Linked DNA regions of Homo sapiens: region 1 is linked to region 2. Evidence: fine-mapped expression QTL. A gene starts in region 2. The other region holds a variant in brackets. All regions are shown on one strand. Distances are between the middles of the regions. Region 1 overlaps SENP5 (SUMO specific peptidase 5). Region 2 holds the start of NCBP2AS2 (NCBP2 antisense 2 (head to head)).

Region 1 (5,000 bases), 34 kb after region 2:
CAGGCTGGAGTGCAGTGGCGCAATCTTGGCTCACTGCAACTTCCACTTCCCAGGTCAAGCAATTCTCCTGTCTCAGCCTCTCGAGTAGCTGAGACTACAGACATAAATGTCTTCTTTTGCGAAGTGTCTGTTCATATCCTTTGCCCACTTTCTGATGGTTTATTTTTCTTGTAAATCTGCTTAAGTTCCTTGTAGATTCTGGATATTAGATCTTTGTCAGGTGGGTAGACTGCAAAAATTTTATCCAATTCTATAGGTTGCCTGTTCACTCTGATGATAGTTTCTTTTGCTGAGCAGAAACTCTTTAGTTTAATTAGAATCCATGTTGGCTTTTGCTGCAATTGCTTTTGGTGTTTTTGTCATGAAGTCTTTGCCCACGCCTATGTCCTGAATGGTACTGCCTAGGTTTTCTTCTAGGGTTTTTACGATTTTGTGTTTTACAATTAAGTCTTTAATTCATCTTGAGTTAATTTTTGTATAAGGTGTAAGGAAGGGGTCCAGTTTCAGTTTTCTGCATATGGCTAGCCAGTTTTCCCAGCATCATTTATTAAATAGGGAATCCTTTCCCCATTGCTTTTGTCGGGTTTGTCAATGATGAGATGGTTGTGTATGTGTGGTGTTATTTCTGAGGTCTCTGTTCTGTTCCATTGGTCTATATGCCTGTTTTGGTACCAATACCACGTTGTTTTGGCTACTGTAGCCTTGTAGTATAGTTTGAAGTTAGGTATGTGATGCCTACAGCTTTGTTCTTTTTGCTTAGGATTGTCTTGGCTATACAGGCTCTTTTTTGTTTCCATATGAATTTTAAAGTAGTTTTTTCTAATTCTGTGAAGAATGCCAATGGTAGTTTGATGGGAATAGCATTAAATCTATTAATTACTTTGGGCAGCCAGGAGTGGTGGCTCACATCTATAATCCCAGCACTCTGGAAGGCCGAGGCAGGCGGATCACGAGGTCAGGACATCGAGACCATCCTGGCTAACACGGCGAAACCCTGTGTCTACTAAAAATACAAAAAATTAGCTGGGCATGGTGGTGCATGCCTGTAGTCCCACCTACTCGGGAGGCTGAGGCAGGAGAATTGCTTGAACCCGGGAAGTGGAGGTTGCAGTGAGCCACGATCATGCCACTGCATTCCAGCCTGGGCAATGGAGCGAGACTCCATCTCAAAAAAAAAAAAAAAAAAAAAAAAAAAAAGATTACTTTGGGCAGTATGGCCATTTTCAAGATACTGGTTCTTCCTATCCACGAGGATGGAATATTTTTCCATTTGTTTGTGTCCTCTCTTACTTCCTTGAGCAGTGGTTTGTAGTTCTCCTTGAAGAGGTCCTTCACATCCCTTATAAACTGTATTCCTAGGTATTTTATTCTCTTTGTAGCAATTGTGAATGGGGGTTCATTCATGATTTGGCTCTCTGCTTGTCCATTGCTGGCGTATAGGAATGCTTGTGATTTCTGCACATTGATTTTGTATCCTGAGACTTTGCTAAAGTTTCTTATCAACGTAAGGGGTTTTGGGGCTGAGACGATGGCATTTTCTAAATATAGAATCATGCCATCTGCAAGAGACAATTTGACTTCCTCTCTTTCTATCTGAATACCCTGTATTTCTTTCTCTTGCCTGATTGCCCTGGCCAGAACTTCCAATATTATGTTGAATAGAAGTGATGGGAGAGGGCATCCTTGTCTTGTGCCAGTTTTCAAAGGGAATGTTTCCAGCTTTTGCCCACTGATATTGGCTATGGGTTTGTCATAAATAGCTCTTATTATTGAGATATGTTTGATGAATACCTAGTTTATTGAGAGTTTTTAAATGAAGGGATGCTGAATTTTATCGAAGGTCTTTTCTGCATCTACTGAAATAATCATGTGGTTTTCGTCACTGGTTCTGTTTATATGACGGATTATGTTTACTGATTTGCATATGTTGAATCAGCCTTGCATCCCAGGGATGAAGCCAACTTGATCATGGTGGATAAGCTTTTTGATGTGCTGCTGGATTTGGTTTGCCAGCATTTTATTGAGAATTTTTCGCACCGATGTTCATCAGGGATATTGGCCTGAAATTTTCTTTTTTTGTGTCTCTGCCAGGTTTTGGTATCAGGATGATGCCGGCCTCATAAAATGAG[C/A]TAGGGAGGAGTTCCTCCTTTTCAATTGTTATGAAATAGTTTCAGAAGGAATGGTATCAGCTCCTCTTTGTACCTCTGGTAGAATTTGGCTGTGAATCCATCTGGTCCTGGGCTTTTTGTGGTTGGTAGGCTATTAATTACTGCCTCAATTTCAGAATTTGTTATTGGTCTATTCAGACATTCCACTTCTTCCTGATTTAGTCTTGGGAAGGTGTATGTGTCCAGGAATTTATCCGTTTCTTCTAGATTTTCTAGTTTATTTGTGTAGAGGTCTTTATAGTATTCTCTGATAGTAATTTGTATATTTCTGTGGGGTCAATGGTGATATCCCCTTTATCATTTTTTATTGTGTCTATTTGATTCTTCTCTCTTTTCTTCTTTAGTTTAGCTAGAGGTATTTTTTGTTAATTTTTTCAAAAAATCCAGCTCCTGGATTCACTGATTTTTTGAAGGGTTTTTTTGTGTTTCTATCTCCTTCAGTTCTGCTCTGATCTTAGTTATTTCTTGTTTTCTGCTAGCTTTTGGATTTGTTTGCTCTTGCTTCTCTATTTCCTTGTTGTTGTTTTTGTTTGTTTGTTTTGAGACAGAGTTTCACTCTTCTTGCCCAGGCTGGAGTGCAATGGCGCAATCTCAGCTCACCACAACCTCCACCTCCCGGGTTCAAGTGATTCTCCTACCTCGGCCTCCCAAGTAGCTGGGATTACAGGCATGTGCCACCACACCCAGCCAATTTTGTATTTTTAGTAGAGATGGGGTTTCTCCATGTTGGTCAGGCTCATCTCAAACTCCTGACCTCAGGTGATCTACCCGCCTCAGCCTCCCAAAGTGCTGGGATTACAGGCATGAGTCACCACGCCCAGCCGCTTCTCTAGTTCTTTTAATTGTGATGTCAGGATGTTGATCTGAGATCTTTCCAGCTTTTCGATGTGGGCATTTAGTGCTATAAACTTCCCTCTTAACACTGCTTTAGCTGTGTCCCAGAGATTCTGGTACATTGTCTCTCTGTTCTCATTGGTTTCAAAGAACTTCTTGATTTCTGCCTTAATTTCTTTATTTACCCAGGAGTTATTCAGGAACAGGTTGTTTAACTTTCCTGTAGTTGCCTTTTTTATTTGTTTTAAATTGAGACAAGGTCTCAGTCTGTCACCCAGGCAGGAGTGCAGTGGCGTGATCAGGGTTCACTGCAGCCTCGACCTCCCAGGCTCAAGTGATCCTCCCACCGCAGCCTTCTGGATAACTGGGACCACAGGCTGCCACCATGGCCAGCTAAGTTTTTTAAATTTTTTATAGAAACGGGGTCTCGCTTGGTTGCCTAGGCTGATTTGAAACTCTTGGGCTCAAGCAATCCTCCCATCTACAGTAATTTTAGGCCTCCCAAAGTGTTCAGACTGCAGATGTGAGACACAGCGCCCAGCCTCTTTAAATGTCACTTCATTTTCAACCTTTCTTTTTCATATTATTTTATGTATACTTCTTATATTCAGCATAAACCTGGGTTTTTTTTTTTTTTACTTAACCCAATCTCAGAGGATCTACAGCAAGCTTGTCCAGTCCACAGCCCACGGGCAGCATGCAGCCCAGGACGGCTCTGAATGCAGCCGAACACAAATTTGTAGACTTTCTTTTATGAGATCTTTTTTGCAATTTTTTTTGTTTTAGCTCATCAGCTATTGTTAGTGTTGGTGTATTTTATGTGTGGCCCAAGACAACTCTTCTTCTTCCAGTGAGGCTCAGGGAAGCCAAAAGATTGGACACCCCTGATCTAGAGGAAGGAATAATTTAGTTTATTATTTAATGAAACAACTCACATATTTGACTTTATTCTTTCACTCTCATGTTTATCATTCAGATACTTTTCCATGAATGTATATTTTTTGCCCACACTGCTTGTAATTTTTCCCACCCCAAATGGAATATAAGCATCTTCCATTATCTTTTTTTTTTTTTTTTGAGACGGAGTCTCTCTGTCGCCCAGGCTGGAGTGCAGTGGTGCGATCTTGGCTCACTGCAAGCTCCGCCTCCTGGGTTCAGTCTCCTGAGTAAGTGGGACTACAGGCATCCGTCACCACGCCCGGCTAATTTTTTTGTATTTTTAATAGAGATGGGGTTTCACCGTGTTAGCCAGGATGGTCTCTATCTCCTGACCTCGTGATCCGCCTGCCTCGGCCCCTCAAAGTGCTGGGATTACTGATGTGAGCCACTGTGCCCGGCCCATCGTTCATTATCTACACAGCTTTTCCTGCTTAAGTAGCATCCAATTATATGACTGTACATTTTAAATTTGAACAATCCTCTACTAGTTGTCCTACATTTTTCTAATGTAAATACAACCATAGGCCGTCCAGTCATACAAGTCACATACTTGGAAGTCATCTTTCACACTTCCTTGTCCTTCATCTCCATAACCAACTTATCACCAAATCCTGTTAATTTTACTTCCTACATCACACTCATCTTCCATCTCTCCTGCTATCATTCTACTTCAAAGTACCATGAATCTGAAATGGTCTCCTGTTCTGCCCACATCAACTTTGCTCCCATACCCATCCATCTTCTTCAGTACTGTTAGAACAAAGACTACAAAGTGGATAATGTCACTAAAAACCATTCAATGGTTTCCTATTACATTTAGGATAAAATCCAAAATACAAACCTCAAGGCCCTGATCTGTGGATCAGGTACACTTCATGCCACTGTCTTCTTAACTCTCTGCATTTCAGCTACACTAGCCTTTTCCCATTCTTCTACCAGATACTTATTCCTTCTGCCTATGTTTCACATACCCCTATTCTCCATTTACCTAGTTAACTTGTATTCATCTTTGATATTTCTGCTTAAATATTACTTCCTATGAGAAACATTCCCTTACCC
Region 2 (5,520 bases):
CCGTTTCTACTAAAATACAAAAAATTAGCCAGGCATGGTGGCACGCACCTGTAGTCCCAGCTGCTCAGGAGGATGAGGCAGGGGAATCACTTGAACCCGGGAGGTGGAGGTTGCAGTGAGCCGAGATCGCACCACTGCACTCCAGCCTGGTGACAGAGTAAGGCTCCGTCTCAAAAAAACAAAAAAAACAGAAAAAAAGTTTTTAATTAGCTGGGCATAGTGTCATGGGCCCGTAATCCCAGCTACTTGGGAGTCCCAGGGAGGAAGATCGCTTGGCCCAACGGGTCGAGGTTGCAGTGACAGCTAGTATTGTGCCACTGCACTCCAGCCTGGGCAAGAGTTAGGTCCTGTCTCAAAAAAAAAATCAGAAATTTAGCTAGGAGCTTCAAATGACAGGACATTTCTATATACAATGGATTTCCTAATCGCAGGTCTGCTAACTGGCTGGATCGTAGTCTGTCTGTATCCCTGACCCTCTAAAATGAGGGGTAGTGAAGGGGTGGGTTGCCCCTCCACACCTGTGGGTGTTTCTCGTTAGGTGGAAGGAGAGACTTGGAAAAGAAAGAGACACAAAGTATAGAGAAAGAAAAAAGGGAGCCCAGGGGGCCGGCATTCAGCAGACGAGGATCCCGCCGGCCTCTGAGTTCCCTTAGTATTTATTCATCATTCTTGGGTGTTTCTCGGAGAGGGGGATGTGTCAGGGTCATAAGATAATAGTGGAGAGAAGGTCAGCAGATAAACACGTGAACAAAGGTCTCTGTGTCATAGACAAGGTAAAGAACTAAGTGCTGTGCTTTAGATATGCATACACATAAACATCTCAATGCCTTACAGAGCAGTATTGCTGCCCCCATGTCCCACCTCCAGCCCTAAGGCGGTTTTCCCCTAACTCAGTAGATGGAACATACAATCGGGTTTTACACCATTGCCCAGGGACGGGCAGGAGACAGATGCCTTCCTCTTGTTTCAACGGCAAAGAGGCGTTCCTTCTTCTTTCACTAATCCTTCTCAGCACAGACCCTTTACGGGTGTCACGCTGTGAGGGACGGTCAGGTCTTTCCCTTCCCACGAGGCCATATTTCAGACTATCACATGGGGAGAAACCTTGGACAATACCTGGCTTTCCTAGGCAGAGGTCCCTGTGGGCTTCCGCAGTGTTTGTGTCCCTCGGTACTTGAGATTAGGGAGTGGTGATGACTCTTAACGAGCATGCTGCCTTCAAGCATCTGTTTAACAAAGCACATCTTGCACCGCCCTTAATCCATTTAACCCTGAGTGGACACAGCACATGTTTCAGAGAGCAGGGGGTTGGGGGTGGGGTTACAGATTAACAGCATCTCAAGGCAGAAGAATTTTTCTCAGTACAGAACAAAATGGAGTCTCCTATGTCTACTTCTTTCTACACAGACACAGTAACAATCTGATCTCTCTTTTCCCCACAGGATAGGAGTCCAGGTAACTTGTTCCATGGCAGGCAGTAGTCTTTTTTTTTTTTTTTTTTTTTTTTGAGAAAGGTTCTCGCTATGCTACCCAGGCTGGTCTCATCTCAGGCTCATGCGATCCTCCTGCCTCTGCAGTGGCTGGGATAAGACACAACTGCCACCAGGCCCTGCCCCTAGGCAGTAGTCTTAATGCCTGATGGTGGGGGGTTGGGGAAGGAAGGGGTTGAGTATCAGGGTAAATGCTGCAGAGCTGTGTTAAGGACTTAGGCCCTGGAGTCAAATGCCTCTGCTCACATCCCACTCTGCAAGACTTTGGGCAACTTAAGCAGCAGCCTCTGTTTCCATCGCAGTGGCTCTTGCCTATAATCCCAGCACTTTGGGAGGCTGAGGCGGGAGGATCACTTGCGCCCAAGAGTTCGAGACCACCCCATCTCTACAAAAAAATCCAAAAAGTAATCTGCTTCCTCATGTGAATGTCGTTGTAAGGAGTGAGATAACACATAGAGTGCAATGAGCAAGTCCCAGCACAGAAGACTCATTTCATAAAATACGTGTTTATTATTACCATAGGCCTACAGTCCCCGGTATTCTTAACACATCTTGCCTGAGAAGTATCACACTCATGCCTATCAACCAGCTCACACATTTAATCAAAGGAATTTGGCAGCTGTAGGGTTGTCTTTTCATCCATATCGTCCCTGGAATTAACTGTCCTGCTATACCAGTCAGATTGAGCAGCATCTGTCAAGAGTTTCAGTCCCACTTGCAGAGGAAAGGCTCTCTGGCTTCGGTCCGTGGCTCTCCGTAGGTGCCGTGTCTGGACCCAGCCTACCTTCATCTCTGTTAGGCTTAGGGCTGTCTCCACACTGTGTCTTGTCCAATCACAAGACTTCAACGGAGCGGGCGGTCTGGCCTAGGCTCTTATGCGTGGGATGTCTGCAGGCCAACAATCCCAGTCGGGATTCGAAGCCGCGCGCAGTGCCCGGAATGACCCCTCCACATTGATGCCACTGTAGAGCCCGGAAGGAAAAGCAAGCGGCCTCGGCCCCGCACAGCCCAGGATTAAATGTTTGCGCCAGGGCCCCTCTGGCTACCTGGTGGTGGCCCCGAGCGGCCTCGGAGGCCGCGGCGTAGCTCCTGGGTGAAGGCGTCTCTAAATCGCTCAGCGCGGCGGCACAGGGAGCCCACGGGCCCAGCCGCGAGGTCCTGCAGGCGGCGGGCCGCGTCCTGGCCCCGCAGCTGGGCCTGCAGCAGTGCGAAGGCCGTGAGCTGCGCCGCACGTCGGATAGGCCGCGACTCTGACAGACGTTCCACCAGCTGCGGGCTGTGCAGCAGGGCGGCCAGCAGCCGCCGCAGCACCATCTTCTCCAAGCGCCCGGAACCCGACCTCGCCGCCCTCGTCTTCCGCCCCGCGGCGCCCGACCCGGACGTCTATGCCCCCGCGCAGCTTGATGACGACACGCCGCCCTCGGATTGGGTCCAATGAGATGCTCGCCTCCGCGCGTTTCCGCTTCCGCCATCGCGGACGCAGCCTCGTGCCGGGAGTCGCCGCATTGTGGTCCGCTTCTCTGCACTATGTCGGGTGGCCTCCTGAAGGCGCTGCGCAGCGACTCCTACGTGGAGCTGAGCCAGTACCGGGACCAGCACTTCCGGGTGAGGGAGGCCGGGCCGCGAGACGGGAAGGCCCTGGGCAAGAACGCTGAGAAACGGTTTGCTCTTGTCTCATTGTGTCGCCTCCCATTCAGCTGAAATCCGCAAACGCCAAGTGGGGCCCCGGTGCCTGCTGGCGAGGCAGGGAATGGGTGCTGGAAGGGCGCTTGGATATCACTGAAGCCACTTGCTCTGGAAGACGGGGAACTGGAGGCTCGCTTATCCCATTCGCTCGCAGCCGCTCCCTGTACCCCAGCCAGTGCCGAGAGGTTTGAGCGGTGGTGGTGGTGGCGGCTCCCGTTTCCACGGTTGTGCCTCCGCAGACGACTACGTAGCAAGGGGGAGGGGTGCCCTTCTCTCTCCCAGAGTAGGCAGAGGCGCCTTCCTGATGCAGATGCGGGGCTTTTTGCTTTGTTTTTTAAATCGGCGAAGCAGTGCCCTTCGGCGATTCGGGCCCCTTCTCTGGGAGGATGGTGTTACGGAAGCTGTACGCGGTGCGTGGGAGACACAAGTGGAGTCCTCACTCCGCCCTCGGGGAAGCTTCGGAGTGGGGAGGTGGACCCGCCAAGCTCGGCACTTTGAGGGTGTTCGGATGTAAAGATCGGAGAATTGCTGGATTTCAGAAGAGGGAAATTTTTAGTCCGGACTATATCACAGTATATTTTGTGGAAAAAGGGGAGGCAGCAGATATTCAAAGTAGACTTTTCAGTATCAGCGGAGGTAGGGATGGAATACGGTTGGGGGTTGGCGGGGCGGGACTCATTAACCCAATTATTTAGTAAACGTTTATCGAGTGCTGTCGCCAAATCCTTGTGCTAAACCCTAGAGGGAGAGGGAAGACAGTTTCTGCGCTCTGCGAGCTCATAATCCCCTGTAGTGAGGATTCAGAAAAGGGAAAAATCCCCTTGTGACTGGGAAAGGAAGGGGCGCATATAGCAGAGGGTAAGTGTGGAGAATGTGTGAAATGTGTTACTAGAGTAGGGAAAGGGAAATTTTGTTTGACGCTAAATTAGGGAAGCTCTTAGATTTATTTAGTCAAGGCTGGGAACGGTGGCTCACGCCTGTAATCCCAGCACTTTGGGAGGCTGAGGCGGGTGGATCACGAGGTTAGGAGTTCAAGACTAGCCTGGCCAAGATGGTGAAACCCCGTCTTACTAAAAATACAAAAATTAGGCGGGCGTGGTGGCAGGCGCTTGTAATCCCAGCTATTCGGGAGGCTGAGGCAGGAGAATCGCTTGAACCGGGGAGGTGGAGGTTGCTGTGAGATCGCGCCACTGCACTCCAGCCTGGGCAACAGAGCGATATTCCTTCTCAAAAAAAAAAAATTTATTCAGTTAATGTATTTTATTTTTTGAGACAGAGTCTCGCTTTATTGCCTAGGCTGAAGTGCAGTGGCGCAATCACGGCTCACGCAGCCTCAACCTCCTGAGCCTAAGTGATCCTACCCACCTCAGCCTCCTGAGAAGCTGGGACCACAGGCTCGCGCCACCACATCCAGCTAATTTTTTGTAGAGACAGGGTCTCCCTGTGTTGCTCAGGCCAGTCTCGAACTCTGGGACTCAAGCGATCCACCTGCCTGGGGCTTCCCAAAGTGCTGGGATGCCTAAGTGCCAGGCATGATTTGCACTTCTACCACTTTTAGTTACTACTTTAGACAGTTCCACATCCTGACCATTTTGAACTTAAAGCATCCTGTGAGATGAAAACTGGAACCTTCTGACTTTGTCTATTATTCATCTCCTCAGTCTAAACCTGTAGCTTTTTTTAGATGCTAATGCCATACTGTCATGTGGAATTTCTAGCATTCTGTGAATGGAATCCATATTAATATACTTTAAGCACTTACACCACAGTTATCTTAAACTGTAGGCTATTTATTTGGATCTTACTTACATGTGTGAGAAAAGTAGAAAAAGAAGATGCCTCCTTTCCATGTTCACAAATCAGTAACAGCAGTAAAATGAAAGGAATTTACTTTCTCTAATGTCTCACTCCAAAGTTCCGAAAACCTCTTTTTAACATACAATGACTATTGTCCTGTGGACTTTTTTTTTTTGAGATAGAGTTTCACTCTTGTTGTCCAGGCTCAAGTGCAGTGGTGCAATCTCAGCTCCCTGCAACCTCCACCTCCCAGGTTCAAGCGATTCTCCTGCTTCAGCCTCCCGAGTAGCTGGGATTACAGGCGCCCGCTGCTACCATGCCCAGCTAATTTTTGTATTTTTAGTAGAGACAGGGTTTCATTCACTATGTTAGCCAGGCTGGTCTCAAACTCTTGACCTCAGGCGATCCACTCGCCTCAGCCTCCCAAAGTGCTGGGATTACAGGCATGAGCCACCGCGCCTGACCCCGATGAGCCATTTTGGACCCAGGGCTTTGTCTGTCAGGTGTGTTGGATGAAGCCCAGTTATATGCTTAAGTCTCTGGCTTC

The links. PIP is the estimated chance that this variant, and not a neighbour inherited with it, causes the effect.
Region 1: its variant is the best candidate, but not a certain one, in a credible set for the expression of NCBP2AS2 in whole blood (INTERVAL, PIP 0.86).

Annotation. Positions count from the first base shown.
Region 1 is chr3:196,906,533-196,911,532 of GRCh38, reverse strand. The region is part of intron 6 of SENP5 (SUMO specific peptidase 5); the gene reads right to left. Among named protein-coding and RNA genes, the nearest start is that of NCBP2-AS1, 31 kb to the left of the region's middle. The variant C/A (reference allele first, on the strand shown) is at 2,130.
Region 2 is chr3:196,940,001-196,945,520 of GRCh38, reverse strand. NCBP2AS2 (NCBP2 antisense 2 (head to head)) reads right to left here and starts at 2,847. Exons shown (of 1, transcript NM_001355243.2): 1 at 1,978-2,847. The coding sequence starts at 2,804. The coding sequence ends at 2,505. NCBP2 (nuclear cap binding protein subunit 2) reads left to right here and starts at 2,993. Exons shown (of 4, transcript NM_007362.5): 1 at 2,993-3,095. The coding sequence starts at 3,018. NCBP2-AS1 (NCBP2 antisense RNA 1) reads right to left here. Exons shown (of 3, transcript NR_046630.1): 1 at 5,394-5,520; 2 at 4,379-4,547; 3 at 2,987-3,128. RefSeq lists enhancers at 966-1,639, 2,390-2,549, 2,314-2,987, 2,770-3,069, 3,120-3,259 and 2 more.